2 separate regions of the Homo sapiens genome follow, and region 2 is linked to region 1. The links come from fine-mapping of genetic effects on gene expression. A gene starts in region 1. The other region holds a variant in brackets. All regions are shown on one strand. Distances are from middle to middle. Region 1 holds the start of TBKBP1 (TBK1 binding protein 1). Region 2 overlaps TBX21 (T-box transcription factor 21).

Region 1 (14,360 bases):
TGAGGCAGAAAAATCGCTTGAACCTGGGAGGCGGAGGTTGCATTGAGCTGAGATCGCGCCACTGCACTCCAGCCCGGGCAACAAAGCAAGACTCTGTCTCACAAAACAAAAACAAAAACAAAAACAAAAAACAGGCTGGGCGCAGTGGCTCACGCCTGTAATCCCATCACTTTGGGAGGCCGAGGCAGGCGGATCACCTGAGGTCAGGAGTTCAAGACCAGCCTGACCAACATGGTGAAACCCCGTCTCAACTAAAAATACAAAATTAGCTGGGCGTGATGGCACATGCCTACAATCCCAGCTACTCAGGAGGCCAAGGCAGGAGAATCACTTGAACCTGGGAGGTGGAGGTTGCGGTGAGCTGAGATCGCGCCATTGTACTCCAGCCTGGACGACAAGAGCGAAACTCCATCTCAAAAACAAAAACAAAAAAACACATTAGCCAGGTGTGGTGGGAGGATGAGGCAGGAGGATCACTTGGGCCCAGGCGATCAAGTCTGCAGTGAGATGTGATTGCGCTACTGCACTTACCAAACAACTGTTTACGTGCCAGGAGACACTGGGGATATAGCAGTGAATAAGCAAACAAAATCTTCCTGTGGAGCTCACATTCTGATGGATAAATAATCAATATTCAATAATTCAATATAACTTTTTTTTTTTTTTTTTTGAGACGGAGTCTTGCTCTGTCACCCAGGCTGGAGTGCAGTGGCGCGATCTCGGCTCACTGCAAGCTCCGCCTCCCGGGTTCACGCCATTCTCCTGCCTCAGCCTCCTGAGTAGCTGGGACTACAGGCGCCCGCCACCACGCCCGGGTAATTTTTTGTATTTTTAGTAGAGACGGGGTTTCACCGTGTTAGCCAGGATGGTTTCGATCTCCTGACCTTGTGATCCACCCGCTTCGGCCTCCCAAAGTGCTGGGATTACAGGCGTAAGCCACCGCGCCTGACCTCAATATAACCTTTTAAAAATTCTGTTTGGGAGATAGCAGAAATGAACATGGCTGTGGAGAAAAATGAAGCACATATGGAATTATAAAAAACAAAAAACATCTGGGCGTGGTGGCTCATGCCTGTAATCCCAGCACTTTGGGAGGCTGAGGTGGGGGATCACCTGAGGTTGGGAGTTTGAGACCAGCCTGACCAACATGGAGAAACCCCATCTCTACTAAAAATACAAAATTAGCCAGGCATGGTGGCACATGCCTGTAATCCCAGCTACTCGGGAGACTGAGGCAGGAGAATTGCTTGAACCCGGGAGGTGGAGGCTGCGGTGAGCCGCGATGGTGCCATTGCACTCCAGCCAGGGCAACAAGAGTGAAACTCCGTCTCAAAAAAAAAAAAAAAAAAAACCACTCTATTCCTTCCCAAACCCTACTAATTCAATTAGGGGCTCTGCATTACCTCCACAGGAATTTGGGGACGTGGTGAAGGAATGTCTTTCTACCACTGCCCTACCCTCCCATCTGATGGAACACCTGCAGCTGCAGTTGGAGTCCCAGGATGCTTGCATGGTGAATGGCCCACTTTCTAGGGTCTGGAACTGGAGGGCGAAGGTGGCACCTAGATCCTGCAGTCACATGGGGCTAATCAATTTTCCTGCCCGCCAGGGTTCCATTTGAGTCATCTGGGTTTTATTTTGATTCAGCCTCTTTAACTGGCTGCTAATGTCACCTCCTCCTACTCTTTTCAGGCAATAATGGGACAGGAAAGACAGCCTCCAGAGCAAGAGTCATGGGAGTGGGAGAGTCTCCCTGGTGGTTTCCAAGGAGGAAACACTGGCAGGGCCTGGCTCTGGGGGCCTGCATTTGCACTGTCTCTCCTACCTTAACGATTGGAGGTGGGTCCTCTGTTATCACACCTGTGAAGGCCATTTAGAAATGTTTTACAACTCATGCCTGACCACTGTCCACCACTTTCCCCACTGTCCTCCCACTGTGGCTCCTATCCCCTTCACCATCTCCCCTATTATTGTCTCCACCATGATGAGCCCTGCCAATACCAGGGGCTCTTAAAAGGGATTCAGACCAGCTGGGCATGGTGTCTCACGCCTGTAATCCCAGCACTTTGGAATGCCGAGGCAGGCGGATCACGAGGTCAGGAGATCGAGACCCCATCTCTACTAAAAATACAAAAAATTAGCTGGGCGTGGTGGCGGGCGCCTGTAGTTCCAGCTACTCAGGAGGCTGAGGCAGGAGAATGGCATGAACCTGGGAGGCGGAGCTTGCAGTGAGCGGAGACCACGCCACTGCACTCCAGCCTGGGTGACAGAGCGAGACTCCGTCTCATAAAAAAATAAAAATAAAAATAAAAAGGGTATTCAGACCAATGTTCAGCTTTCTCAGATGAGGAAACAGGCCTAGAAAAGTGAAGTAGTCTTAAGTCACACTGCCTCATTTATTTATTCATTCAACAAAGAACATACTTTCTTACTCTTTTAAGATTTAGCTTAGCCAGGTGCGGTGGCTCATGCCTGTAATCACAGCACTTTGGGAGGCCGAGGCAGGTGGATGGCTTGAACCCAGGATTTTGAGAGCAGCCTGGGCTACATGGTGAAACCTTGTCTCTACAAAAAATACAAAAATTAGCCGGGCGTGTGGCATACGCCTGTAGTCCCAGCTGAGGCGCAAGCCACCACGCCTGGAGACTGAGGTGGGAGGATCACCTTAGCCCAGGAGGGCGAAGCTGCAGTGAGCCAAAATTGCACCACTGCACTCCAGCCTGGGCGCCAGAGAAAGACCCTGTCTTTTAAAAAAAAAAAATTGTAAGAGCTCATCAAGGAGACCTTCTCTGAATACTGTGAAGCAGATCCCATCCTCCCATTCTTCTCTAGTACTGCCCCTTGGTGTTTCTTTTTATCCTTTATCACAATTTCCTTCCTTCCTTCTTTCCTTCTTTCTTTTTTTTGAGACGGAGTTTCGCTCTTGTCACCCAGGCTGGAGTGCAATGGGGTCACCTCGGTTCACTGCAACCTCTACCTCCTGGGTTCAAGCAATTCTTCTGCCTCAGCCTCCCGAGTAGCTGGGATTACAGGGACCCACCGTCATGCCTGGCTAATTTTTGCATGTTTAGTAGAGACGGGTTTCACCATGTTGGTCAGGCTGGTCTCAAAGTCCTGACCTCAGGTGATCTGCCTGCCTCAGCCCCACAAAGTGCTGGGATTACAGGCATGAGCCACTGTGCCTGGTCCTTTATCACAATTTCTAGTGGTTTTACTTATTCATCTTTTTATTTTTCTGACTTCTCTACCATACTGCAAGCTCTAAGAGAGCAAGAGACATGTATACCTGTCAGAGACATGTTCAGCACTGTATTCTCAGCACCCAGCACATAATAGATGTTCAAGAAATCTTTGCCGAATAAATATACAACGAGCAGGTACCAACCCTCAGGGCACCTTAGAATACAAGGATGGATGGGATATAATCTCTGCTCTCAGAACTGCCTGGTATGAGCAGCAGAACTAGAAATGGAGAATGCAATGAGATCAGGTCCAGATTGGGGGAGGGGGAGGATTTTAGGGCACCTAAACCAGGCCTAATGGACTTTTGCCACCAACCACCTAGAACCAAGGATAGAAGCATTTGGCTGCACCCTGCCAGGTGACTCAATTAGGCCCTGAGCATCCAAGCAGCAGCAGGGGGCTGATGACTCATCCCAGACAGTGTGTGCTTAGAGGGTCCTGGGACCCCTTTTTCCAGTGAGGGAGGGCTTGCCAGTTGGTCTTATGGGTCCTGTTTGTGGCCAAGTCCAAGGTCACCGAGGGTCCCAGAGACAACCCTACACCTCCTAGTCTAGCCTCCAATCTTTTGCCTGGTCCCTTGCTTCAGAAGAGATCTTGGGGAGTACTAGGGAAAGGAACATCTGCCTAGCCCTTGGGATTAGTGGGGTGACAGATGTCCCCACTGGTTTGCCTTCATATCTAGAGGGTAGATAGGTCATCCCACATGGTTCAGAGAAAGCTAGTGCCTCAGAGAACAAGTGGCTGACCTGCCTTCCTGTTCTGGACTACAAACGGGAGCCAGTGCTGGCAGGAAAGACTGAAAGGGAACCCAGCAGGAGGAGGAGGAAGGAAGCCACTGAGAATCCCCCCTTCTATGAAGAGAATGAGTCTAGAGCTCTGGCTGGCTCTCCTGGTAGAAGCTCACCTCTCAGTCCAATTTTCTCCCAGCAGTGAGGAAAGATGGCAGCTGCTGCTTTTCAAAGCTCAGAGAGAGCAAGAAACCTTTTCCTTCCATCCTCCCCCTCGGAGATTCCCACCCCCATCCCACCTCAGGAGCCAAAAAGGTAGGCTCAGGTTCCCAGCAGTCTTCGCAGCTAAGGCTGAATCTGCCAAAAGCCCCCGCCCAGCTTATCCCCTGCTTCCGGGCTTTGCCTCCCTGTCCACAGAGGATGCTCTTCAGCCAGAGTGCTCCAGGGTTCCCCTGATCATTCTCTACCTGCAGCTAGGCTGACCATGCCTCTGTCCACATTATTTAATCCACCAGGCAATACTCAAAATGACATCGTTAACACTTCCTGAGCATTCGCAGGCTGCTGTATTTAGTTCTGATCCCCATTCTTCCTCCATGAGAGTGCTTAGGTGGGGCATGATCTCCAGCTTAGAAAGGTTAAGGTAACTTGCCCAAGGTCACACAGCAGGAAAGTAGCAAAAAACTTGTTTCTCTTGCCCAGCAGTTTGGCAGGTGCTCAAATAATCTTTGTGCACAGGGTGACATCTGTTGTTTCTTCATTTCCCTGACCTGTGGGTACTTGAGGGTGGCCGGGGAGTGGTGTGTGGGGAGGGAGATGGCTGTCCTTCTTCATGAATGAATCTTTGACCTCCTTAGTTTACTCTCACTTCCAAAGAAGTTACAGCTTTAATCTCTCTGTACCCTATGTTCAATGTATTTATCGCAGCAATGCCCCTTTTACCAAGAGCAACGAAGAGCAGGTCTAATGATTTCCTTCTCAAAAGCGCAAAGACCAAAAAAAAAAAAAAAAAGCCAGATAAATAGCCCCACTTCCTCCCCAAATATACAGCCCATAACTAAACAACCAAAACAACCAAAGCATCAGCCGGGCCCCTGCACTGACCGCAGACGCCCCCAACACACGCCACCACGCCACACTGCGCCGGGAGGCGTCGGGGAGGGGGCGCCAGCGCGGGCCGCTGGCGCCGCAGGGAGCCGGTGGGCTCCGGGCGCGCTGCCAGGAAGGGCCGCACCGTAGGGGCCGCCGCCTCTCGCCACGTGGTGGTGGCAGCGGCGGGGTCCGGGGCGCCTTCCCAGCTGGAGAAACCCGGAGCAGCCGGGGAGGAGGAGGCGGAGGAGGCGGCGGCGGCGGAGGAGGAGCGGGGCGGACGGGAGGGAGGGGGTTGGGGGGAGGGGTGGGGGGTGGGGAGAGACCCGGCGGCGGCGACAGGGCGAGGAGCAGAGCGCGGTACCAGGGGGGTGGGGGCACTGGTGCCCGTTTGGGGAGGGAGCAGGCGGAGGGGGTAAGCTGCGATTACAAGCAGGAACCGGCAGCAGCTGTGAGTCCCCGGCTGGGGCTAGGGCTGGGGGAGGGGAGCGGCGCCCGGGCTGGGCCCCAGGGGTCGCGGGGTGGGCAGGAGGAGGCGGCAGGAGGGCGGCTGGCAGCCGCACGGGATGGCTGGGAGGGAAGGGGTCCGGTGTCGGCCGCCCTCATCCCCTCGCGTCCCCCTCCGCCGCCGTTCCTCAGGCCGCGCCACTCCCGGAGCCCCTTCCCCGGCCCCGAGAGGGTGTCCGGGGGCCCAGGGCTCGGCCGGTTGTGGGGGAGGGGGCTGCGTGGTCTCGGCCCCCGAGAGGGGAGGGGCGACAATTTCTGTCGGCCGAGCGAAAGGGGTTTAAAGGGCGGCTCTTAAAGGGGCCGCAGGAGGGGCCCGGGCCGACAGAGGCACTCACCCCTTCCCCAGCCGCCTTCCATTGCGCTCACCCGGGCGCTGGGCCCAGAGAGGAATGCGGAGGAAGGAGGCATTTGTGGTGCGGCCTCGGGGACAGAGCCCCGCCAGCGGGGTGGGCGCAGAGGGGCGGGCGGGGGTCTGGGGGGGTGTGGTAAGCGCTGGCGCGCGGAGCTGGGGGGAGGGGATGGCGTGGGAAGGAGAGGGTTAAAGGTGGGGCCGGCCCTACAAACGCGCGCACACACTCCTTACTCAGACCCAGTCACTCGCGTTTCCCTGGCACTTAGATGGGCCTGTGGGTGGCGGAGGGGGGGGGGTGGATTGAATTGGAGCCTGCGCCGGAGCCCTTTGCACCCCAAGCTCCTGCAGCCCGACCTGGGGGCCCCGCTGTCTGAACTCACAGCTCCCTGCCGAGCCCCCTCTCCGGGGTGCACATAACGCTCCAGCGCGCGCACACACCTCGGACAGTCCCCTCGCGTCTCACGTGACACGCGGCCCGGACGTGCCACCCTGCCCACGCGCTCACGCACGCGTGCACACACCAGCCTCCTGGTCGCTGCCCCACTCCGTCCCGACGCCCCTGCGACCCCGAAGGCACTCATTGACTGACACACCTACACTCATTCACAGACGCACACTCCCCCCATACGCCAACCCCAGACACACATTCATAACCAGGCCCGAGAGAAGTACACACGCACCCCCTCACTGCCTACTCCTGCTTTCGGGAGCCTGAGTCATTCCTGCCCCCTCGTAGGGTTCCCCATTTCCCGGTGCGCGGGCACCCTGAGACAGCCTTGGGAATTCGTTCGCGTCCCCTTCCACCTGGGTCCCCTTCCCCAGTTTGCGCCCCGTAACACTCAGCCAAGGACTTCCTGTGGGTCCCAGGTCAGGGGCCAAGGGGTCCTGGACCGCTGCCACAGCCCCGGTGCGCCCGGGGGAGGCGCTTCCTTTTCCTGAACTCTGGGATCCTGCGGGAGGAAGTGGGGAAGTTGGGCGGGGGTGCAGCCGAGGGCGTGCCGACTGTGGAGGGGCCGACCCTCGCGCAGCTCTGGGCCTTCCTTGGGGAGGAGCTGGGGTGCCAGAGGCCCAGGCTGAGGAGCTTGGCGGCGAGGTATTTGGGGAAGTAAGGCCTGGGGTGGAGAAGCGCGGAGGAATGGGCCGGGCCCGGCTGGGAAGGCAGCCCTCTCCCATCCACAGGTCTCCCTGGGTTCTGGCAGGAGCCTGCCCCTGCTGCCGGCCTGGCTTACTTGTCCCTACTTGTCAACACCCTGGCAGCGGGGTCTTCACCTGGTTCCAGCCCCTTTTCCCCAAGGCGGCAGAGAGGATGGGGCTGAGGAGTCTGGGAAGGGGCCATGGGAGTCCCTGCTGAGCTCGGGGCAGGAAGTTTCTGGGTTGCATCTTAGCCGGCCCCAGGGAGTGCAGAGCCAGGGAGAGGGGTACCAGGGACAAACCCTAGACAGACGGCCCTGTCCACGGTTGCTCCTGCTCTCCTAGGAGGCCCCGTGTGGGCCGCGGCCCGGCCCTCACCATGGAGTCCATGTTCGAGGACGACATCAGCATCCTGACGCAGGAGGCCCTGGGGCCTAGTGAGGTGTGGCTGGACAGTCCCGGAGACCCCTCGCTTGGGGGCGACATGTGCTCCGCCTCCCACTTTGCCCTCATCACTGCTTACGGAGACATCAAGGAACGGCTGGGGGGCCTGGAGAGGGAGAACGCCACCCTCCGACGCCGCCTCAAAGTCTACGAGATCAAGGTCAGAACTTGGAGAGGAGGGCGCCTGATAGAGTGTATGGGATGGGGAGGGGGACTGGGAATCTGGTAGATACCAGGGATCCAAAAGAGGGGTCACTGTGCAGACTCTTGGGAACTTGAGGGTCTCCCATGAGAGACGTGGCTGTTCCGGATGCGAACTGTCTCCTGTTGGCTTCAGAAGGGCTGGATCTGGGATCTAAAACAGATCCGGTGGGTGGGAGATGGCTACAGACCCATGGGAATTGGGATCCCACTAGCCAAGGAGAAGGAGGGTCAAAGGTCTGAGGCAGGTTGTGGGTTGGGGGCACAGCCAGGCTGAGGCCTGGGCTGGGCACCCGGGAATCCACTCTCCTGAAGCTCCACCCCACCTGCAGTACCCACTGATCAGTGACTTTGGAGAGGAGCATGGCTTTTCTCTGTATGAAATCAAGGATGGCTCCCTGCTGGAGGTGGAGAAGGTCAGCCTGCAGCAACGGCTCAACCAGTTCCAGCATGAGGTGAGCCTACCAGGCTGGGCGCACCCCCTGAGCATCTTGCTCCAGTCTGTTTCTGATACCCTTCCCTCCACACCCCCCAGCATCTGGCCTCTGCCCTTTGATTAGAGATGGCCAGGTCCTCCCTAAGCCCAGCTGCAGCTCCTCCTGCCCCTCCATAGGGTGCTGGGAGTGGGGGTGGGGAGGTGCAGGGAGCTCTCCAACTCCAAGTCCAGTGTGGGACTGACCCTGTGGTGGGGCCCTCTGGGCCTCATCCAGTTACAGAAGAACAAGGAGCAGGAAGAACAGCTTGGAGAGATGATCCAGGCCTACGAGAAACTCTGCGTGGAGAAGAGTGACTTGGAGACAGAGCTGAGGGAGATGGTGAGGCCTGGGGAGCCGGAGGTGCTTGAGGATGTGTAGCTGGTTGTGTGTGTGCATGTGTGCATTTAGTTCTGTGTGTGAGGATTCCAGCCTGTGACAGTGCAGTCCCATGTGTCACACATCACTTGTTTGTGCCCTGCTTGTGTTCATGTGTATCTGTGAGTGCCCGCCCATTTGCCCTTGTGAGGGAGACTGCATGTGTTATCCATGTTGCGGTGTCTGTGTGCATCCTGGCCATGCAGTGGCCCCGTGGGAACCTCTGTCTCTGTGTGTATGCCTGGCTGTCACGCTGGGGTGACCCTGTGCCTGTGAGCACTGCCCTGGCTCTCACGCTGGGGTGACCCTGTGCCTGTGAGCACTGCCCTTGGGAGGCTGTGAGGGTGAGGGCAGAGGTGACCAGGAGTGTGTGACTGCTAGGATGGGCCTGTGCTTGGGTGTGCTTCCGAGTCAGGGTATGGCTGTGCCGGTGAGCAGGTCAAAATCAAGAGACAGGCCAGGTATGGTGGCTCACGCCTATAATCTCAGCACTTTGGGAGGTTAAGGAGTTTGAGACCAGCCTGGGCAACATAGTGAAACCCCATCTCTACAAAAAATACAAAAAAGAAGTTAGCCAGGTGTGGTGGTGCACACCTGTGGTCCCAGCTACTCAGGAGGCTGAGGTGGGAGGATCGCTTTAGCCCAGGAGATCGAAGCTTTGGTGAGCCAAGATCAAGCCACTGCACTCCAGCCTGGGTGACATAGCCAGACCCTGTCTCCAAAAAAAAAAAAAAAAAAAAAAAAAATCAGGAGACATGGTCTCAGCCAACCCTAAGCTATGACCTCAGTTAAGTCACTTAGCCTCCATCCCTCCTCTGAAAAGTGGGGCAAATATTAACACCCTCACCAGGTTGTGGTGAGGGTGATGGGGCATTCATGTATAGATGCTTTGCCTTCATAATCATAGATATTTATGTGGCACTCGGGGTGTGCCAGGCACTGTTCTTTTCACCTGGCATACACTAGCTCATTTTAATTCTCAAAACAACCCTAAGAGGTGAGTGTGGGACTGTTATCCCCATTTTATGGATCAGGTGGGTGAAGTCCAGAAGCTCTTGTCATGTATGCAAATGGAAGTTCTGATGCTCCTGAGGGGGGCTGGCCTCCAAACAGGGGGCTGAGTGTTCTTTTAAGTGTCCCTGTGTGTTAATGACAGAGCAGGGGCATTAACTTGACCTCGCCAGGGGCAACAGCCCGCAACAGCTGCATTGCGGTGGCTGAGAGGAGACTTTGCACTCACAGCCACTTGGAGAGTGGGCTTGGGATGTGTGACCTGGGGCCTCTGCTGTAGTCTGGGGTGATGACTCTCCAGACATGGGGAAGTCCTGGGCCTGTGCAGACCCTCCCCTCTGTCTCTCTCTCCAGAGGGCCCTGGTGGAGACGCACCTGCGTCAGATCTGTGGTTTGGAGCAGCAGCTGCGGCAACAGCAAGGCCTCCAGGATGCAGCCTTCTCCAACCTGAGCCCACCGCCAGCCCCCGCCCCTCCCTGCACTGATTTAGACCTGCACTACCTGGCACTGAGAGGGGGATCTGGCTTGAGTCATGGTGAGATCTCAGTGACCCCGACTTACCTCCTAGTCCCCAACCCCCATTTCAACATTCCTAGACACCTCGCACTTACTTACCATCCCATTTGTAATATAATCTATTTCTCCATAATCATCCCATCCTCCCTTACCTGCTGTCCCCTCACCTCACCCACTGTTACCCTAATTTCTCCCCTTCTAACTCGGTCATTCCTGATCACCTCGTTGCAATTCCTGTGCCTGCCAGCAGAGGGCGCCCCCACCCAGAGTCCCCCCGCCCCGTCTCTGGCTGTGACTAGGAGAGGCCCTTGCAGATGCTCTAGACTTGAGTCTGGCCAGTAAAGCCTTCAAGAGCCCATCTTATTTTTTTCCTGGCCTCCAGGAAAATTAGAAATGCGGCTCAGCCCATCTTTCCTCGCTGCCCTTGTCGCAGTCATCCCTCCTTGGCTAGCTGTCCTGGCTTCTCTCTTGGAGTCCCCATGCTGCATCCTCCTGTTTCACTCTGGCTCTGGGAGCTGGAGGAGGCAGCTGAGCTCGCCTGACGTTGTCCTGTCCACCGACAGCAGGCTGGCCGGGCTCCACACCCAGTGTGAGTGACCTGGAGCGGCGGCGGCTAGAAGAGGCTTTGGAGGCCGCGCAGGGAGAGGCCCGGGGGGCTCAGCTCCGGGAGGAGCAGCTCCAGGCCGAGTGCGAGCGGCTGCAGGGGGAGCTGAAGCAGCTGCAGGAGACCCGGGCCCAGGTAAATGCAGGGGCCTGGAACAGCTTCTGGAGGTCCAGGGCTGGGCCTTCCCCACTGTGTGCAGACTGGCCCAGGGAACTGTAGACAAGGGCCCTGGCAGGGGTGAGCTTGGGCTCTGACCTCTTCATCTTCTTCCTTAGGATCTGGCCTCCAACCAGTCGGAGCGAGACATGGCGTGGGTGAAAAGAGTTGGGGATGATCAGTAAGTCACATTGGTAACCCTGGTCCCTCCGTGATGTTTGGGAGACCTCCCCTCCCAGCCCTCAGGGGTGTGGTGTCTGGGCTGCTGTTGCTCTGTGTGCATCCTTCATAGGAAGGAGGTGGGGTTCTTTTTTTTTTTTTTTGAGATGGAGTTTCGCTCTTGTTGCCCAGGCTGGAGTGCAATGGCGTGATCTTGGCTCACCGCAACCTCTGCCTCTCGGGTTCAAGCAATTCTCCTGCCTCAGCCTCCCGAGTAGCTGGGATTACAGGCATGCACCACCATGCCTAGCTAATTTTTTTTTTTTTTTTGAGACGGAGTCTTGCTCTGTCACCCAGGCTTGAGTGCAGTGGCGCAATCTCGGCTCACTGCAAGCTCCGCGTCCTGGTTCACGCCATTCTCCTGCCTCAGCCTCCTGAGTAGCTAGGACTACAGGCGCTCGCCACTACGCCTGGCTAATTTTTTTTTGTATTTTTAGTAGAGATGGGGTTTCACTGCGTTAGCCAGGATGGTCTCGATCTCCTGACCTTGTGATCCGCCCGCCTCGGCCTCCCAAAGTGCTGGGATTATAGGAGTGAGCCACTGCGCCCGGACCTTTTTTTTTTTTTTTTTTTTTTTTTTTGGATTTTTAGTAGAGATGGGGTTTCTCCATGTTGGTCAGGCTGGTCTCGACTCCTGGGAGGTGGGGTTCTTGAGTGTTTGGGATCTGGGACATTCCCTTTGCTTTCCTCTGGGGCCCAAACCCATCTCTTCTGGAGATGCCAGGGCTAAGTGACACTTACTCGGCTGCTTTGTCGCTGTGTCCAGTGTAATGTCCCCTGCTGAGCTTTTGGGCCTCCGTAGGGCCCCATTTTCTATTCCAGTGACAAGGCCCGGCCAGTTGGGTTCACCCTCCCCTCCCTAGTGAGGAAGAGGGAGGTGGTGTTTCTTGGGATTTGTTGGGCCTTGTCTGCTGATCTCAGGAGAGAGAAGCCTGAGGCTTAGAGACAGGAGAGGTTTCCATGGGTTCACACAGCCGTGGGGTGGGGAGTTAGAATCTGCTCTGCTAGGGTACTCCCTTGAATCCTACCAAGAAAGGGGCAGCAGAGAGCGGCAAGGGAGCTGTGTTGGTGGGGGGCCCAGTGCTGGGGCCTCCAGGGGGGCACTGGACAGCAAGGGAGGGGTGAGCAGCCACCCGGCAACAGTGGAACCTGGTGCCTTTCACATCCGCACTGAACTCACCCTCTCCCACTTTCTGAGAAATAGAGCTCAAACCTCTTTCCGCCTAAGTCCTCTCCCCTAAGATGAGCTGTGTGGCACAGACTCCCTACTCTAATTGGAGGAGAAGACTGAGGCCCAGAGAGGGGCAGGAACTAACCCTCCACCGCATAGCATACCCAGCTCCGGGGCTCCGGAGGTCTCCTGCCCAGCAGGCTTCTTCCTTATCTGCCTCCCAGCTTCTGGCCAACTGGGGATACCCCTCGCCTACCTCCCTACCTAAGAGTGAGGGCTTGGGTGGAGCTGTGATAGCTGGGGAGGTGGTGAGAACCCAGTTTGTGGGACTGGTGGGTGGGACCCCTCAGCTAGGCCTTTGTGGAGAGGGTCCACCCTAGCTTGTGGCTGGAGCTTGGGGCCCATCATAGCCCATGTGCCCAGACCTGGAACACACAGACACACACAGACACACACACACACACACACACACTCTCTCTCTCTCTCTCTCACACTCTCCAATCCTAGCTTGCCCCAGAAGTCATGATGTAGGGCCCTTCATGGGTCACTGAACCCAGTCCCCTCTTACCAGACCAGCAGTGAATCTCCCTGAATTGGTAGAACTCCAAGGGAGGACATTTTGGTGGGGCTGGAGTCTGGCTCTTCAGGTTTTGAATCCCAGGGGCCTTTCTTTACTGACTTGGACTCTACCTCTCTGGATCCAGTTTCCCTCACAGGCTCAGGGGCCAGTCATTGCTGAGAGATGGGAGAGGAAGGTGAGGCGGTGGGTAGAAGCAGAGAAGGGGCAGGGCTCCCAGGGGCCAAGGTTGTATTGTGTGAGTGAAAGGAAGCCCACCCTATAAGGGGCTAGGAGGCCGTATCATCCACGCTGCCCATTCTGGCAAGAGCAGCCCCTTCCCTCTCTCTCTCAAGGCTCCTGCCCTTCTCAGGCCCTTTGGCTGGAGGGAGCTGGCCTCTGCTTGGGGGCTGGCCCCACAGGCTTACTGGAGGCCACCTCCTGGCTCCTCCCCTCCTTCCCTGTGATTAGGCTCTGCCTCCAGCCTCCCAGATCTCTGCATCTGGAGCCAGCCAGGCTCTGCTGCCCAGCCACACGCTTCCTTTCAGGCCGAGCGAGCATCTCTGGACAGCCCTAGTTTGGCGAGCGTTAATTCTCAGAGGAAGTCCTCACTACCCCGATAGTTTTATTTTCTTATAAACTCAGCTCCTTTTGGTAATAGGCTGCTTCCCGAGTGCTCCCTCCCCTGTCCTTCCACCCAAGGAAGCCTCAGTCACTTGCTTTCAGCTCCTCTTCCCCCACTAGTGCCCCTCTTTCTTCTGTTTCCACCTGACTTTCCAGGCTGGTGGGAATTTTACAAGTAGGCTTTTCCGGGAGTGGAGTGAGTGTCGAGGCTGGATGACCCAGGTTTGGGGTGTGATTGGGGTGAGGAGGACCAGGATATGAAGGCTGAAGAGGGGTACACCCAATTCCTGAGTCCAGCCCACTCTTAGGCGGGAGTCTTCTGTATGGTGAACTCTGTATGTATGTATGCCCACCTGTCTTGGTCTAGACACCTCCGGGGCAGCCAGTTTTATTGCGGGAGTCCTCAAGGTTAACCGCCCCCACCCCCATCTCTATTAATTCCCTTCTCTGGATCCTAGCCCCAGCCCCAGGGTTTCCCAGTTCCTTCCCTCCCAGCCCCTGGCCCACAAGTTCTGGCCATTAACGTTCCCACGAAAACAGACACCCAGACCAGACCGAGGCAGACTACTACCCTCCAGGTCTGACCCCCTGGGAAACCCATGGTTTGGTTTGCCCAGCTCCTGGGGACAGAGCCCAGGGAGACAAATTGCCCCAGAGGAAGAGCCACTGGGGGTCACGCAGAGGCCAAAGGCAGTGATGAGGGAGGCGGTGGGAGCAGAGCCCACCCTGCTCCTGAGGATGCACAGGGAGGTAAAGACCCTGACCCTTGGGGGGTTCCCAGCCCAGGTGGAAGGCGCAGCACCCACAACCCCCTTCTCTCTGGGCCCAGCTCCCCAGCCTGGGGTTCCAGAGTGGGGCCTTTTGGAGGGTATGGCCGTGCTGAGGGGGAGGGGAAATGCGGGGGGGGGAACTTCTTGAAGGGGATGAGGGCTCCGAAGGGACAGGGGGTCTGTGAGG
Region 2 (9,409 bases), 44 kb after region 1:
TGAGCAGGGGACCAGCGAGGACCAGTGTGGAAGGGCTGTTGTCATTGGTGGACCTGGGATGCTGGGTCCCAGGTCCGAGAGGTGTGGATACCAAACGTGGGGCTTGGGGTGGAGGGGAGAGGGAGAAGGCCATGTTGGACCCCAGAGGTTGGTATTCGATCTGGGCATTGCTGGAACATTCTTCCCTCCAGATGATTTTTGTGGGGTAGCCTGGGACTGGGGAACCTGTTGCCAGCCACAACTGGCTTCAAGTTACTGAGCTGTTCCACTTTCCCTGGGATGAACCCAGGAAAGTTGGCGTGTTCTTTGATGGCTCAGCCTTCATCTCTTAAGCCTTCTGATAATTTCTCTCTGCTCCCCCCAACCCTAGTCACCCTTTGGGTGTACCCAGACACAGCCCAAGCTTCTGGTCCCAATGTGTCTGAATTGGAAGGGACCCAGAAGATCCTGTCCCTCTCACTGCACAGACAGGGAAACAGGCCCAGAGATAGCAAGAGACTCTTCCAAGGTCACACAACACACTCATTGCAGGCAGAGCTGGCACTACAGCCCAGATAGTATTTGCTTGGGTTTCTTTCTCTGGCCCCCTACGGCCACCAGTAAAAACAGCCACCCACGCTCTCTGAAGGCCCTGATGCATTCAGAGTGCTTTCACTTCCATTATTTCACTGTGCGTTAGGTAGGCCAAGCAGTCTCCCCATTTTACAGTTGAGGTCACTGAGTTGCAGGGTCAGCTAGGGGCTTGCACTCCATCACACAGCAGACCAGAAGTGGGGCCTCTTAACCTTCCACTCTGTTGTGTGGTCAGGAGGACTTCCCACCCTGGGCCCTTGCTGGGGTCTCCCCACAGCCTCTGCCAGGCCTCTGCCTCCTCCTGCCAGTCTTGAGGGATGGGGTGGATGGAGCATCAGCCAGCACTCTAGGGAGTTGGCCAGTGCTAGGGGGCTGCCTCTCTGCCTGTAGAGCCAGCTTCAGGGAGGCTGTAGAGCACTTCAGGGAGGCACTTGAGGGGATGATTCTCGAAGTGTGTATCACCATCTCTACTCCCATGGCCTCCTTTCCTTGGTGTTCCTGCTGAGTAATTCTCACTTGACAAGTTTTTTTGTCCCCCTTTTAGATACATACACTTACATTTTTTTATTATGAAAAATTCCACTACATACAAACATGGACAGAAGAATGTAACAGACTTCCATCCCCAGCTTCCACAGTTGTCAATATGGGTCCAATCTTGTTTCTGCATCCTCACTTCGCTTCTTCTGTCTGCAACTATATTAGTAATATAGTAATTACTAAGTACATTCTAGATATTATTTTATCTCTGCACCTCTAAAAATGACTTTTTAAAATGAATGCATTACCATTAGCAAACCTGAAAAGAATTTCCTAAATATCACCAAGCTTCTCTGATTGCTTCATAAATGTGTGTGTGTGTGTGTTTTCCAATCCTCACACTTTTTGCTCCATTCTGAGGGGCTCCATACGCGGGGTCCCTGTTGAAGGAGGCAGTGGCTCTTCACTGTTTCTTTTGGTGCTTTTTCTTGGATCAGGCTTCATAGACCCCACGCTGCCATGGAGGGGACAGAGGACACACAACCCCAATTCAGTCCCACTAGCCCCAGGTTACCTCCATACCTTCTCAGCTTGGGCTCCTGAGATCTGGGAAATCAGTGGCCATTTCCTCTCAAAACAGGCTTTTGGGCTTATAGCACAGCTTCCTTTCCGTCTTCCTGCTTTTGTGGGCTGGCCTATCCCTCCGTGGGTTCCAGTGACCCACCAGTCACACCACATCACCCATGACCTTCTTCCTTTTTGAAAGGTTCTCCCACCTCAGGCCCACCTACAGCCTACAGCCCCACGGCTTTTTGCCTTGAGCTGACTCACGCCGTCCCGGATTCTTCCTCTCCCACCCACCCTGGATCTATCCCTCGGTATTGACCAGCGCCAGTGGCATGCTCTTCCCAACGGGCAGAAATGGGGCAGGGCACAGGGGGTGATTCCTGGGTCTGGAGATTGATCAAGGCAGCTCAGATGGGGCTGAGAGAGGGGAACTGAGAACAAAACGGTGGATTATCCCAGTAGGAGACTTTGGTGTCTACGTTTGTGTCTGGAGATTTGGGGCAGCCTGATAATGCCCCACACAGGCTTGTGCGAGGGTTTCTGTGTGGCAGTGTGTGTGTGTTGCGAATGTGTTGGCGAGTATATAATAGTTGATGGTAGACATTCTCAGTAGAGGAAGAGAGAGGCCTGTGTCTCTGTGGGTGTGTGGGTGTGTATTAATTGCTGGCAATCCCCACTTTCTGGGTGTGATTGGTTGATTATTATAATTAAGATAACTTTGGGTAGCTGTGTTGTGTTAAGCTCAATCTGCATTTGGATTTGTGCATGTGAAGACAGAGGTTGGTAAAACAACAATTTCAGTCCCACACTATCCTTGCTATCCTCACAGTCATTACAATTTTTTTTTGTCTCCACTTTCCCAACTCCAAGAACTTTAATTTTTTTATTTGTAATATTTTTCATGGGCCAGGAAGTGGACTTGAACCTCCCACATAGATAACTTTAGTCGATAACTTTCTACATCTTTTTTTTTTTTTGAGATGGAGTCTCACTCTGTCCCCCAGGCTGGAGTGCAGTGGCTCAATCTTGGCTCACTGCAACCTGCACCTCCCAGGTTCAAGTGATTCTCCTGCCTCAGCCTCCCAAGTAGCTGGGATTACAGGCAGAAGCCACCAAGCCCAGCTAATTTATGTATTTTTAGTAGAGACGGGGTTTCGCCATGTTGGCCAGGCTGGTCCCAAACACCTGACTTCAAGTGATCCCCCGCCTCGGCCTCTCAAAGTGCTGGGATTACAGGTGTGAGCCACCGCACCTGGCCCAACTTTTCAGATCTTAAAAAATTTTTTTTAATTTATTTTTTATGGAGACAGAATATTACTGTGTTGCCCAGGCGGTCTCAAATCCCTGATCTCAAGCAATCTCCCGCCTCAGCCTCCCAAAGTGCTGGGATTACAGGCATGAGCCATTGTGCCCAGCTAAAAACATTTTTTTTAGGCTTAAGCATGCTTAACTGGTTTCATTTGTCTTGGGGCAAGTGAAAACAACTTTAATTAAAAATTTTTTTTAAATGAGACATGGTCTTGCTCTGTCACCCACGCTGGAGTGCAGTGGTGCGATTATGGCTCACTGCAGCCTCAACCTGCTGGGCTCAAGCAATCCTCCCATCCCAGCCTCCTGAGAAACTGGGACTATAGGCGCACATCACCATGTCCGGCTAATTGTTTCTATTTTTTGTAGAGATGGGGTCTCACTATGTTGCCCAGGCTGCAGCTTTGCTTTTTGTCTGGCTGTTTGCCAGTGGCTGTCTGAGTCTATTAAGTGGATCTGAGGTTGGTAAGACGAGGAGTTCCCTTGATGCCCAAGCACATTTTGTACTTTGGTAGGTACGACACATTGCCAGAATACCCTCCCAAAAGGTGCTACCAATTTACGCCCACACCAATAGTCTATGAGAGGACCCATTTTCTCACAGCCTCATCAGCAGTAGATATTATCACATTTTTTTTTTTTTTGAGACAAAGTCTCGTTCTGTTGCCCAGGCTGAAGTGCAGTGGCATGATCTCTGCTCACCGCAACCTCCGCCTCCCAGGTTCAAGCGATTCTCCCACCTCAGCCTCCCAAGTAGCTGGGATTACCGGCATGCACCACCACGCCTGGCTAATTTTTGTATTTTTAATAGAGATGGGGTTTCACCATGTTACCCAGGCTGGTCTCAAACTCCTGACCTCAGGTGATCCACCTGCCTCGGCCTCCCAAAGTGCTGGGATTACAGGCGTGAGCCACCACGCCGGGCCAATATTATCAATTTTTAAACATTGACCAATATGACTGAGAAGAACTATCTATCTCCTTGCTATTTTAATTTGCACTTAATTACAGTGAAGCAGAGCCTGTGCCAGGAGCTCCGAATCTGGGAGAGGTATGACGACCCTGTGAACCATCCCAAGGCTACTTAGTTCTTAGGGCCAGCAGAGGAATTTGGGGTCTTGGACCCTGTCTTATGAGGGTGGGATGGTAAGTGGCCTTTAGGGACGCTCAATTTGACACCAGACCCATCACCACTCTCGGTTCCTTCCCAGCAAAGTGTCATGTAAATCAGGGGCTATTTTGGGATTCCAGCTGGTGGTGATTCTAGACTTTTAGGGAGAAACCGAGATCTCCTTTCTCTTCTCCCTTTTCCCCAGCCTCTTCCTGTGTCTCCATTTCCCTCTACTAGTGATAAAAACAGGATGAGCTGGGCATGGTGGTGAGCACCTATAACCCCGCTCGGGTGACTCGGGAGGCCAAGGCAGGAGGATTGCCTGTGCCCAGGCATTTGAGCAGAGCCTGTGCAGCATAGCAGACTCCATCTCTTAAAAAAAAATCAGTATGGCCTGGCGCGGTGGCTCACCCCTGTAATCCCAGCACTTTGGGAGGTCGAGGCCAGTGGATCACCTGAGGTCAGGAGTTCGAGACCAGCTTGATTAACATGGTGAAACCCCGTCTCTACTAAAAGTACAAAAATTAGCCAGGTGTGGTGGCGGGCGCCTGTAGTCCCAGCTACTCGGGAGGCTGAGGCAGGAGAATAATGGCGTGAACCTTGGAGGCGGAGCTTGCAGTGAGCCAAGATCACACCACTGCACTACAGCCTGGGCAACAGAGCGAGACTCCGTCTCAAAAAAAAAAAAAAAATTAGCCAGGCGCAGTGTTGGGTGCCTGTAGTCAAGGAGAATCTCTTGAACCTGGGAGGCAGAGGTTGCAGTGAGCCGAGATCACACCACTGCACTCCAGCCTGGGGGACAGAGCGAGACTCTGTCTAAAAAAAAAGAAAGAAAAAAATGAATATGAAGAAATGGGGACCACAGAGCACAGCATGCACTCTGCAGTCAGAAGACCTCACCTCTGCTCTCCCACCGAGGACCGTCACCAAACCTCTCGGAGC[G/A]TCAGTTTCTTCAAATATAAAATTGGAAATAACATTTTATTTTTTATTTTTTCTTTGAGATGGAGTCTCACACTGTTGCCCAGGCTGGAGTGCAGTGGCGCCATCTCGGGTCACCGCAACCTTCGCCTCCCAGGTTCAAGCGATTCTCCTTGCCTCAGCCTCCAAAGTAGCTGGGACTACAGGTGCATGCCACCACACCAGGCTAATTTTCTGTATTTTTAGTAAATATGGGGTTTCACTATGTTGGCCAGGCTGGTCTCGAACTCCTGAGCTCAGGAAATCCACCCTCCTCGGCCTCACAAAGTGCTGGGATTACGAGTGTGAGCCACTGTGCTGGGCCATCTTTCGAACTTTTTAACAGCTTTCAGAGGAAAGATGGACAGGAGTTAGACTCTCCATTTACATGTGAAGAAACTGAGATTTGGGCTGGGTGCAGTGGCCCATGTCTATAATCCCAGCACTTTGGAAACCTGAGGCGGGTAGACCACTTGAGGTCAGGAGTTCGAGACCAGCTTGGCCAACGTGAAACTCCATCTCTACTAAAAATACAAAAATTAGCCGGGTATGGTGGCACATGCCTGTAGTCCCAGCTCTTGGGAGGCTGAGGCAGGAGAATCACTTGAACCTGGAAGGTGGAGGTTAGAGTGAGCTGAGATCACGCCACTGCACTCCAGCCTGCATGACAGAGCGAAACTCCATTTCAAAAAGAAACTGAGATTTGGCTTGAGAATTAACTTATCCAGGGTCATAGGGTAGTAATCTATTTTTCTCAACTCAGGAAAGTCAGGGGAAGACAGGCGTGTGACAGCACCCTTCTAGGACACCTTCCCAAGGTTGTTAGGTAAGTTGTCCTGGGGACCTCTGGGGATTAGAAGTCCCTCAAAAACAGTTCCTAGGCCCCTGGAACCCTCCCTCCTCCAGGTTTCCTGACTCAGATAGGTCCCTTTTTCCTCATCCTTCAGGGCTTCTCATGAGAGGAGGGGGAAGTGTGTGGAAATGAAAAATAATTCTGATGAGGATTAGCTTCTGCCATTCTGAAAACTCTGCTCTTCCTGCTTGTGTTAGAAGAGAAAGGCTAAGCCATTGGAGCTGGTGATGGAATTGGTGCTGGTGGAGGTGGTGGTTGTAGTGACGGTACTACTGGTGGTGGTTGTGATGGTGAAGGTGGTGGCTGTAGATGGTGGTGCCCGTGCTGGTGCTGGTGGAGATCGTGGTTATCGTGATGGTGGAGGGGGCAGTTGTAGTGACGGTGGTTGTGATGGTGGTGATGGGTGGTTACAGTGCTACTGGTGGTGATGGTGCTGGTTGTAGTGGTGGTGGTGACGGGGCTAGTGAAGGTGTTAGTGGTGGAGATGGTGATGGTAGAAGAGTGCTTCTTTTCTGAATCTGTTACTCTGGCACAACAGCGGAATCATACAGCATCCCACCCCCTAACTTCCTCTACTTTTCCTGGAAACAAGGACTTTGAACATGAGCCCCGTGTTCAATAGAGCCTTCTTTCAGGTGGATGGGAAGCTCCCTGTTCAACTAGGATGTGTGCAACTTCTCTAAAGGCTGAGGGCAGACTATACCGCAGGTGGCAGACCCAGGAGCATGGGAGAGGGAGGGCCTGTGAGTGGGTGTCATGGGTCTGGGAGTGTGTTAGCACTGTGAGAGCCACGGCAGAGAGGGTGGCTGAGGAACTGAGGCGTGAGGACCTTCCAGGAACTGCCTGTGGAGAGCTGGTGGTGCCCCCTCCTAGGAAGCAGCTAAGGTTAGAGACAGGGGTGTGCAGGTAGATGTCGAGCAACTGACCCTCTGAAAGAACATTTTAAAAAACTCTGATTTGTAGTGTTTGCTGATCCCTGTGGTGTAAATACTCCTGCTATGGATGATTTCAAGCGACTCATGTGAGTCATTGAACACAGAGCCGGGAAGAGACTCACAGTGCACTGTGATTTAGTACCTCCTCCATGCAGCTGCGATAGACGGAAGTAACCTCGACAGTGCAGACAATAGTAAAACGTAAAATAACTGGGCAGTGATGATTTTTTAGTTTTTACTCCTTTTTTTTTTTTTTGAGATGGAGACTTGCTCTTGTCATCCAGGCTGGAGGGCAGTGGCGCGATCTCAGCTCACTGTAACCTCTGCCTCCTGGGTTCAAGCCATTCTCCTGCCTCAGCCTCCTGAGTAGCTAGGATTACAGGCGCCCACGACCACACCCAGCTATTTTTGTTGTTGTTGTTGTACTTTTTAGTAGAGACGGGGTTTCGCCATGTTGGCCAGGCTGGTCTCGAACTCCTGACCTCAGGTGATCCGCCCGCCTTGGCCTCTCAAAGTGCTGGGATTACAGGCATGAGCCACTGTGCCGGGCCTACTTTGACTGTTAATATGTCTTGAATTGCAAGTTTATATAATTTAATTTTTAATTATGGCTGTGTTTAACCACTGGCTGGCAAACTCCCTAAACACCTTCCAGCTGGTTCTTGTGAGTGGGAGGAAGCCGGCTACAGCACACCACTGATGCCTGGGCACTGTTGCAGGGGGGACTGGCTGTCAAGCTGGAGCTGATGGGTGCTGGGGGCTTTCTCTCTTCTCTCCAGGCGGATGTTCCCATTCCTGTCATTTACTGTGGCCGGGCTGGAGCCCACCAGCCACTACAGGATGTTTGTGGACGTGGTCTTGGTGGACCAGCACCACTGGCGGTACCAGAGCGGCAAGTGGGTGCAGTGTGGAAAGGCCGAGGGCAGCATGCCAGGTGCGCGCGCCCCTGGGAGCGGTGGGCTCTGTTTCGCTGGGACTGGGCGCCCCCTGGTGGGCCCACCAAGCCCCTACCCCTAATTCCTAGACCTTTAACCCCCTCCCACTCCATCCCACGCCATTGCATCCCTCCTGTTTCTGGCTTCCTGCTTTGCTCTAGCCTGTCCTCTGCTGAGTCCTCTGCCCTTCCCTGCCTGGTCCTCCCCCTGTGTCCTTCCTTACGTCCCTCTCGGGACAGGCAAAGCCCTACATCACCAGGGTTCTGTCCCGGGGGCTGCATGTCAAAGAGGTGAACTGTCCACAGGAAACCGCCTGTACGTCCACCCGGACTCCCCCAACACAGGAGCGCACTGGATGCGCCAGGAAGTTTCATTTGGGAAACTAAAGCTCACAAACAACAAGGGGGCGTCCAACAATGTGACCCAGGTAGGACCTGCTCTTCAAAAGGTAGCCTCGCCCTGCTCCCCACCCTGGGTCTGAGACCTCCAAGGCCACAAGGGTCCTGCGGGGCCAGTTTGGTTCATTTTTTCTTCCTTCCTACAGGAAGGAAGGTTCGTTTTTCTTCTGTCCTAAACGAAGGGTCATTTTTCCTCCTTCCTAAACTCTGGCTGTTTCTCACCCACCTTGGGAGGAAGATGAGATGGGATGAAGCTGAATCTTGGACGGGGGTCATATTCAGGCCACACAGGCCAACCCAGCCTCAGGGTTTCTTCACCAAATCATGGGTTGCCATTGCTCCGGCACCATGAAAGGCACAGAGTTGGCCCTGTGGTCCCAGGGAATAGATGCCGAGTTTCTCTAGGTTGAACAATCCTGTTAAAAGTGCCCTTGCTGGCTGGGTGTGGTGGCTCACACCCATAATCCCAGCACTTTGGGAGGCCAAGGCGGGTGGATCACAAGGTCAGGAGTTCAAGACCAGCCTGGCCAAGATGATGAAACCCCGTCTCTACTAAAAATACAAAAATTAGCCAAGCATGGTGGCGGGTGCCTGTAATCCCAGCTACTCAAGAGGCGGAGGCAGGAGAATCGCTTGAACCCGGGAGGCAGAGGTTACAGTGAGCTGAGATCATGCCATTGCACTCCAGCCTGGGTGACAGAGTGAGACTCCGTCTCAAAAAAAAAAAAAAAAGAAAAAAGAAAAAAGAAAAAAAAGTGCCCTTGCCCTAAAGCCCTGTTTGTGCTGATACCTTGGTCTCAATTGACATCTGGAGGTAGAAGAGGGGGCAAGAGGCTAGAATTGGTGCCCCAAAGAGTCCGGACACTGGAGTTGGAAAGCTTGGGGGAAGTTACATGGTGGCAGAGCAGGGGAATGGACAGGATGACCTCAAGGTGCTTGCTAGCCTCACGTGGGGCCAGCTGTTGGTGGGGGTGATGGGATCCTCGAAATCCTTCCTCCCCACCCCTACAACCGTCTTGCTCTGTCTACAGATGATTGTGCTCCAGTCCCTCCATAAGTACCAGCCCCGGCTGCATATCGTTGAGGTGAACGACGGAGAGCCAGAGGCAGCCTGCAACGCTTCCAACACGCATATCTTTACTTTCCAAGAAACCCAGTTCATTGCCGTGACTGCCTACCAGAATGCCGAGGTGAGGGCTGCCTGAGCCCCGGTGGGGAGGAGGGCAGAGTGGGGCCCACTGTCTTCCTTGGGAGGGATTTGGAAAGTTCCCGAGCCCCAGACTCAGGACTCA

Evidence for each region. PIP is the estimated chance that this variant, and not a neighbour inherited with it, causes the effect.
Region 2: its variant is the best candidate, but not a certain one, in a credible set for the expression of TBKBP1 in whole blood (INTERVAL, PIP 0.56).

The regions. Positions count from the first base shown.
Region 1 is chr17:47,688,684-47,703,043 of GRCh38, forward strand. TBKBP1 (TBK1 binding protein 1) reads left to right here and starts at 5,478. Exons shown (of 10, transcript NM_001394755.1): 1 at 5,478-5,511; 2 at 7,396-7,654; 3 at 8,028-8,150; 4 at 8,406-8,510; 5 at 9,912-10,092; 6 at 10,637-10,812; 7 at 10,953-11,014. The coding sequence starts at 7,430. RefSeq lists enhancers at 5,233-5,913, 5,914-6,593, 6,594-7,274 and silencers at 5,697-5,826, 6,077-6,136, 6,919-7,078.
Region 2 is chr17:47,735,047-47,744,455 of GRCh38, forward strand. It overlaps TBX21 (T-box transcription factor 21), which reads left to right. Exons shown (of 6, transcript NM_013351.2): 2 at 7,564-7,718; 3 at 8,025-8,146; 4 at 9,149-9,307. Among named protein-coding and RNA genes, the nearest start is that of TBX21, 6.5 kb to the left of the region's middle. The variant G/A (reference allele first, on the strand shown) is at 4,982.